Linked DNA regions of Homo sapiens. The protein of the gene in region 1 purifies or fractionates together with the protein of each later gene. This does not show direct contact. Each region holds a gene or a part of one and is shown in the gene's direction. Other genes may lie near its edges.

Region 1 (3,678 bases):
GTAATAAGTATTAGTTGTCTCATTTTTTCTTCTGTTTCTTTTTCTTTTATTTCTTATCAGCCAGCTTAAAAATTAAAAGGAGTGGAAAGTTTGGGGCCCTGGTTCTCTACCCGGTTCATTTTAATTTTTAAATTTTAACCTTCTCCCTGCCCCATTCCCCAACCTCTCTTTGAGTTGCTTCACCCACCGTCTCTGCAACCCTGGGGCTGTCTCTTTCCAGGTGGTTGTCAGTCTATCTCTCCAGTGCCTCTCTGTCCCTGTCTGGACCCTGCTGGGGGGCCACAGAGCAGGCAAAGGCAGGGCTCAACTGCCAGGCCTGGGCAGCCTTGGGGGCTCCCTGGGGCCAGCTTCCTGACACTTGCCCTACTCTGTGCTGCCCCTGCAGGTGTCTGAGATGCTGCCACCGCAGAAGAAGCCCTGGGAGTCCATGGCTAAGGGGCTGGTGCTGGGCGCGCTCTTCACTAGTTTCCTGCTGCTGGTGTACTCCTATGCCGTGCCCCCGCTGCATGCCGGCCTGGCCTCCACGTGAGTGGCCCAGCTGGGCAGATGATGGGTGTAGGTGGGGGAGGGATGGCACCCCACCCATGGGGCCCTGTAATTACCACAGGGCCTGCCCCAGTGATCTTGGGTAGCCACCCTGCACCCTGCACCATGCTGTGCCAGACAGAAATTCCACTGATGGCAGAGCTCGCCGTGTAACTCTGAGCCTTGGTGTGCCCATCTGTGAAGTGGGGATAAAAACAGAGCCTTTCGGCTGGGCACGGCAACTCACGCCTGTAATCCTAGCACTTTGGGAGGCCCAGGCGGGCAGATCGTCTGAGGTCAGGAGTTCGAGACCAGCCTGGCCAACATGGTGAAACCCCATCTCTACTAAAAATACAAAAATTAGCTGGGCATGGTGGTGTGTGTCTGTAATCTCAGCTACTTGGGAGTCTGAGGCAGGAGAATTGCTTGAACCCGGAAGGCAGAAGTTGCAGTGAGCCGAGATGGCACCACTGTACTCCAGGCTGGGCCAACGGAGTGAGACTGTCTCAAAACAAAAAGAAAAACAAACAAACAAAAAAAACCCAGAGCCTTCCTCATAGAGCATGAGAATCAGGTAACACTGTCTGTACAGGGCTCAGATTTGCATCATCTGAGATGCCAACGGGGCCCTGGTGGGGGCGACCTGTCCATGGGCATGGATTCAAACGGGTCGGTCTGACTCCAGGCCCAGCTCCTGAGAACCAGGCTCTCCCGTTTCCTCATGGGGCTGCTCTGCACAGACCCAGCACAGCCTGTAGCTGGTGCAATACCAGTGGTTGGTGATATTAACTTGACACAGAGGAAACTGCAAATTTCTGCAAAAATGGACCATTTTTGTCCTATAAAATGGCAGTTTCATGTGGCCCAAGCTGATACTGATTCATGGTACATGCAACACAGTGGCCATGAATGAGAGGAGAGCCTGTGTGCCTCATCTCACAACACCGTGAATAGGGCCTGTTATCGTCCCCATTTCACAGAAGAGGAACATGAGGCTAGAGAGGCCAAACCACCCGCGCAGGCACCCAGCCTGGACTCAGGCCCCACAGGTCTCACTATCCCAGCTCCTTTGCCACCACTGTTCCCAATAATCTCCCTCTCTAACTACCAGAGTCCTGAGGGCCCCAGCACCCCCCTGAGGCTCTCCCCACCTCTCTGTCCCCAGCAGGACCCCGGAGGCCGCAGCGTCCTGCTCTCCACCTGCACTCGAGCCAGAGGCAGTGATCCGGGCCAACGGCTCGGCGGGGGAGTGCCAGCCGCGGCGCAACATCGTGTTCTTGAAGACGCACAAGACGGCCAGCAGCACCCTGCTCAACATCCTGTTCCGCTTCGGCCAGAAGCACCGGCTCAAGTTCGCCTTCCCTAACGGCCGCAATGACTTCGACTACCCGACCTTCTTCGCCCGCAGCCTGGTGCAGGACTATCGGCCCGGGGCCTGCTTCAACATCATCTGCAACCACATGCGCTTCCACTACGACGAGGTGCGCGGCCTGGTGCCGACCAACGCCATCTTCATCACGGTGCTCCGCGACCCCGCCCGCTTGTTCGAGTCCTCCTTCCACTACTTCGGGCCGGTGGTGCCCCTCACGTGGAAGCTCTCGGCCGGCGACAAGCTGACCGAGTTCCTGCAAGACCCGGATCGCTACTACGACCCCAACGGCTTCAATGCCCACTACCTCCGAAACCTGCTCTTCTTCGACCTGGGCTATGACAACAGCCTGGACCCCAGCAGCCCGCAGGTGCAGGAGCACATCCTGGAGGTGGAGCGTCGCTTCCACCTGGTGCTCCTTCAAGAGTACTTCGACGAGTCGCTGGTGCTGCTGAAGGACCTGCTGTGCTGGGAGCTGGAGGACGTGCTCTACTTCAAGCTCAACGCCCGCCGCGACTCGCCCGTGCCGCGGCTCTCGGGGGAGCTGTATGGGCGCGCCACCGCCTGGAACATGCTGGACTCCCACCTCTACCGCCACTTCAACGCCAGCTTCTGGCGCAAGGTGGAGGCCTTCGGGCGGGAGCGCATGGCCCGCGAGGTGGCCGCCCTGCGCCATGCCAACGAGCGCATGCGGACCATCTGCATCGACGGGGGCCACGCCGTGGACGCCGCCGCCATCCAGGACGAGGCCATGCAGCCCTGGCAGCCGCTGGGCACCAAGTCCATCCTGGGCTACAACCTCAAGAAGAGCATCGGGCAGCGGCACGCGCAGCTCTGCCGGCGCATGCTCACGCCCGAGATCCAGTACCTGATGGACCTCGGCGCCAACCTGTGGGTCACCAAGCTCTGGAAGTTCATTCGCGATTTCCTGCGGTGGTGACGTCCCACCGCCCAGCGGCTTGCCTGCCTGCTCGCTCCCTGCAGAGGGGCTGAGCAGGACGCCGCTGGTGCTGGCCGCCCCCAGCCCCCTCCTGGTGCCACCTCAGACCCCGGGGTGAGGGGGGGCTCCCTGGGGGGAGGCAGCCAGCCAAGACTGGGCCCATGAACACAGAGAGGGCCTAACCGAGATCAGTATTTAACTAATTATACCAGTTTTTATTAAACCCCTTTCCCTCCCCGATAAAGAATGTTCTATTTCTGCCTCCCCTTAAAGGGGAGACCTCAGAAGTAAAGGAATTTGATGTTGTGTTTTTGTTAATCAGCCTCAGTGGTGGTGACTTGGGGTGGGGGTTGGGGTGGGGGGAACCCAAGAGACCACAGTGGTGCCTGGGTGAGTCTGTGGGCAGAGCCCAATGGGGTGGCAGGGATTTGATGTGTTATTTGCTATATGCTATAGTTCTATATGGTTCAGGGACTCCCATGAGCTACCAAGGCCTGGAAAAGCGCGTGTGTATGTGTGCGCTTGTGTGCACGTGTGTGCATGTGTGCATGTGTGTGTGATCATCCTAAGGAGTACAACAGAGTACAACAGTTACTCACTCTGACTGTGTGCCCGGCACTAGGCTAAGGGCATTATCTCAACCCATCTTCACCAAAACTCAGCGACCTGGGGACTGTTATTGTCTCATGCTAGAGACAATGAAGGGTGCTCAGAGAGGGACAATCACTTCACCAAGATCACACAGCAAGTGGTAGGACTAGAGTAGGGGGCTGGGCGGGTAGAGGGTGTGGCCGGATCAGAATAGAGAGAGAGAGAGAGAGGGAGGAAGAGACAGGGAGGTGGC
Region 2 (3,747 bases), on another chromosome or scaffold:
GTGAGACCATGTCTTTAAATATAGATAGACAGATAGAAAGATATCTGTCTGTTTTAAAAATAAGAACCTATTATGTGCCAGACTCTTGCTGTCATTGATTGACAGATAGATAAAAATTTGCACCTATTATGTGCCAGGCCCTTGCTGTGATTGAAAGATAGATAGATGGATGGATGGATAGATAGATAGATAGATAGATAGATAGATAGATAAAAATTAGCACCTGTTAAGTGCCAGGCCCTTGCTGTGATTGATTGATGGATAGATAAAAATTAACACCAATTATGTGCCAGGCCCTTGCTGTGATTAATTGATCGATTGATAGATTGGTTGACAGAGAAAAATTAGCACCTATTATGTGCCAGGCTCTTGGTGTGATACTGTGTTAGATAGATAGATAGATAAAAATTAGCCCCTCTAGGCCGGGCGCGGTTGTTCACGCCTGTAATCCCAGCACTTTGGGAGGCCAAGGCGGGTGGATCACCTGAGGTCGGGAAGTTCGAGACCAGCCTGACCAACATGGAGAAACCCCCGTCTCTCCTAAAAAAGAAAAATTAGCCGGCTGTGGAGGCGCGCGCCTGTAATCCCAGCTATTCAGGAGGCTGAGGCAGGAGAATCGCTTGAACTCGGGAGTCGGAGGTTGCTGTGAGCCGAGATCGCGCCATTGCACTCCAGCCTGGGCGACAGAGCTAGACTCAATCTCAGAAGAAAAAAAAAAAAATTAGAACCTATTACGTGCCAGACCCTCGCTGTGCCATGTTGGCAGGCACAGAGGGAACTCAGACTCCGTTACTGCTCTCAAGCAGCAGCTACCAGTCCGACTGAAAGACCAAGACCAGGTCAGTTTCTTTTTTTTTGAGACGGAGTCTCGCTCTGTCGCCCAGGCTGGAGTGCAGTGGTGTGATCTCGGCTCACTGCAAGCTCCGCCTCCCGGGTTCACGCCATTCTCCTGCCTTAGCCTCCCCAGTAGCTGGGACTACGGGCGCCCACCACCACGCCCGGCTAATTTGTGTTGTATTTTTAAGTAGAGACAGGGTTTCACCATGTTAGCCAGGATGGTCTAGATCTCCTGACCTCGTGATCCGCCCGCCTCGGCCTCCCAAAGTGCTGGGATTACAGGCGTGAGCCACCGCGCCTGGCCCAGACCAGGTCAGTTTCTTAAGTGATCTGAGCTATAATGGCGGTAACAGAGCACTGTGAGAGCCCGCAGAAAGCTCCTAACCCATCTGGGATGAGACCTAGCGCTTCCAGGACGAGCCGATGTTGAGCTGAGACCTCGAAGGACAGGTTAGTCATTCACCTTCTCCCGGGCTCAGTTTCTTCGTCTGTAAAATGGGCTTTCATACATAAACTATAAAATGGGGACTATTTTGTTCCGCCTTAGGTGGGTCGCAGCAGGAGGACTAGTCACTCCGGAGCGACTTCTAGGCTGAGACTAAGGAGATTCCACGCAGGTCCGCAAAGTCAGGCTTGCGCTTGCTCCTGACACCACTTCCTTTACCTCCACGGCTCCATCTTTGTTCTGCGCGAGTGCGCACGCGCAGGCTCCGAAAGCGGGCCGTCGCACAGAGGGACCACAACTCCCAGAGTGCTCCGCGTCCTTGCTTTCGCCTCTACTTGTGCTCCAGGGCGCACGCGCAGCCCTGGGAGCGGGTTCTCGCGCATAGGGACCACAACTCCCAGGGTGCTCCGCGTCCTCGCCGCTGTCGCCGCCGCGGAGACAAAGATGGCTGCGAGTAAGTGCAGGTGCCGGTGGCGCACGGGGCTCGGGTAGTTCTGGGAACCTCTGGGCGGTCCTGGGACTGAGGTGCGGCAGGGCAGGGGTGGAAGCGATGGGGTCCGTGCTGGAGGGGAACGCAGAAGTCACGAGGGGGCTCCTCCAGGGCAGGGGTGGCACGAGAGGGTTAGAGGTCACCGGGGGCAGCTACTTGCAGGGGTGACGCTTCTTGCCACCCCTTCAGGAGTCGGCGCCTTCCTCAAGAATGCCTGGGACAAGGAGCCAGTGCTGGTCGTGTCCTTCGTCGTCGGGGGCCTCGGTGCGTGAGTGCTCCAGGCGCAAACTTGCATCGTCCACCCCCGTCCCCCTACATCCCTCCATCTTGTACCCCTAAAGCCCTATCGCCGCCCTCGGGTCCCCTCTAGTGTGTCTGCACCCCCACGGCATCCCCTTATCTATCCCCATACCCATTATAACCTCTCCACCATCGCCCCCCGCGTTCCTCTCCACCTACCCAATACGCTCTTAACCCCTCTAAATGAGACGTTCTCAACCCTGCTTATGCCTTAACACCTGAGCACCAAAAAAAAGTCCAGATCCTCCTCCTCCTTTTCATCTTTCCTCTCCCCCATTCTGAATTGAGTTGGCTTGGGTGGAGGTGGGACTGGGGAATCTGTGTCTTGTGAAAATCCCCGTATGATCCCAATGTGCCTTGCTGATTGAAAATCTCTGCCCTCTGCCCTGGAACTGCCCTACTCACACTTTAATTAGCACCGGAGTTCCTGCAGGGATGGGGGCGGGGGATTGTTAAAATGTAGCTTTTTTTTTTGCGATGGAGTCTCACTCTCACCCAGGCTGAAGTGCAGTGGCGCGATCCCGGCTCACTGCAACCTCGGCCTCCTGGGTTCAAGGGATTCTCCTGCCTCAGCCTCCCGAGTAGCTGGGATTACAGGCGCCCAGCTAATTTTTTGTTTTTGTTTTTGAGACTGAGTCTCGCTCTGTCGCCCAGGCTGGAGTGCAGTGGCGCGATCTCGGTTCAGTGCAAGCCCCGCCTTCCGGGTTCACGCCATTCTCCTGCCTCAGCCTCCCGAGTAGCTGGGACTACAGGCGCCCGCCCCCATGCCCGGCTAATTTTTTGTATGTTCAATAGAGACGGGGTTTCACCGTGTTAGCCAGGATGGTCTCGATCTCCTAACCTCGTGATCCTCCCAACTCGGTCTCCCAAAGTGCTGGGATTACAGGCGTGAGCCACCGCGCCCGGCCAGCTTTTTTTTTTTTTTTTTTTTGAGATGGCGTCTCGCTCTGTCTTCCAGGCTACAGTGCAATGGTTTGATCATGGCTCACTGCAACCTCCGCCTCTAGGGTTCAAGTGATTCTCCTGCCTCCGCCTCCCAAGTAGCTGGGATTACAGGCGAGCACCACCACGCCCGGCTAATTTTTGTATTTTTAGTAGAGACAAGGTTTCACCATGTTGGCCAGGCTGGTCTTGAACTCCTGACCGCAAGTGATCTGCCTTCCCAAAGTGCTGGGATTACAGGGGTGAGCCACTGCGCCCGGCCAAACTGTAGGTTCTGATTCTGTAGGTCTGGGGTGGGGCATGGGATTCTGCATTTTTGAAGAGTTCCCAGGTCTTGTCAGTACTGCTGGTCCACCAGCCAGGCACTAGGTTAAGGTTCTGAACACTTATTCAGTATGGCAGCCACCAGCCACAACTGGCCACTGAGCATTTGAAGTGGTGCTGGTATGAATTGAGGTGGTATAAGACACTGGATTTCAAAAACTTAGTATAACAGAGTGTGTAAACTACCAATAATCTTTTGTTGATTACATGGCGAAGTGATGTTTTGGATGTACTATGGTTTTTTTTGTTTGTTTGTTTTTGTTTTTTTGAGACGGAGTTTCGCTTTTGTCCAGGCTAGAGTGCAATGGCCTGATCTCGGCTCACTGCAACCTCCGCCTCCCGGGTTCAAGCGATTCTCCTGTCTCAGCCTCCTTAGTAGCTGGGATTACAGGCGCATGCCACTACACCT

Evidence for each region. Proteins that work in one complex are often made in the same cells at the same time.
Region 2: the proteins of GAL3ST1 (region 1) and NDUFA3 purify together in Homo sapiens (affinity purification with mass spectrometry; 3 studies listed by BioGRID and IntAct, with this or other methods). This does not show direct contact.

What each region holds. Positions count from the first base shown.
Region 1 is NC_000022.11:30,554,109-30,557,786, reverse strand, and holds the end of GAL3ST1 (galactosylceramide sulfotransferase), read left to right. Parts: intron 1-385; coding exon of another isoform or gene 386-394; coding exon 395-525; intron 526-1,690; coding exon of another isoform or gene 1,691-1,693; coding exon 1,694-2,834; 3' UTR 2,835-3,152; downstream 3,153-3,678. UniProt on the Homo sapiens protein: Catalyzes the transfer of a sulfate group to position 3 of non-reducing beta-galactosyl residues in glycerolipids and sphingolipids, therefore participates in the biosynthesis of sulfoglycolipids.
Region 2 is NC_000019.10:54,101,153-54,104,899, forward strand, and holds the start of NDUFA3 (NADH dehydrogenase [ubiquinone] 1 alpha subcomplex subunit 3), read left to right. Parts: upstream 1-1,702; 5' UTR 1,703-1,726; coding exon 1,727-1,736; intron 1,737-1,961; coding exon 1,962-2,036; intron 2,037-3,747. UniProt on the Homo sapiens protein: Accessory subunit of the mitochondrial membrane respiratory chain NADH dehydrogenase (Complex I), that is believed not to be involved in catalysis. Complex I functions in the transfer of electrons from NADH to the respiratory chain.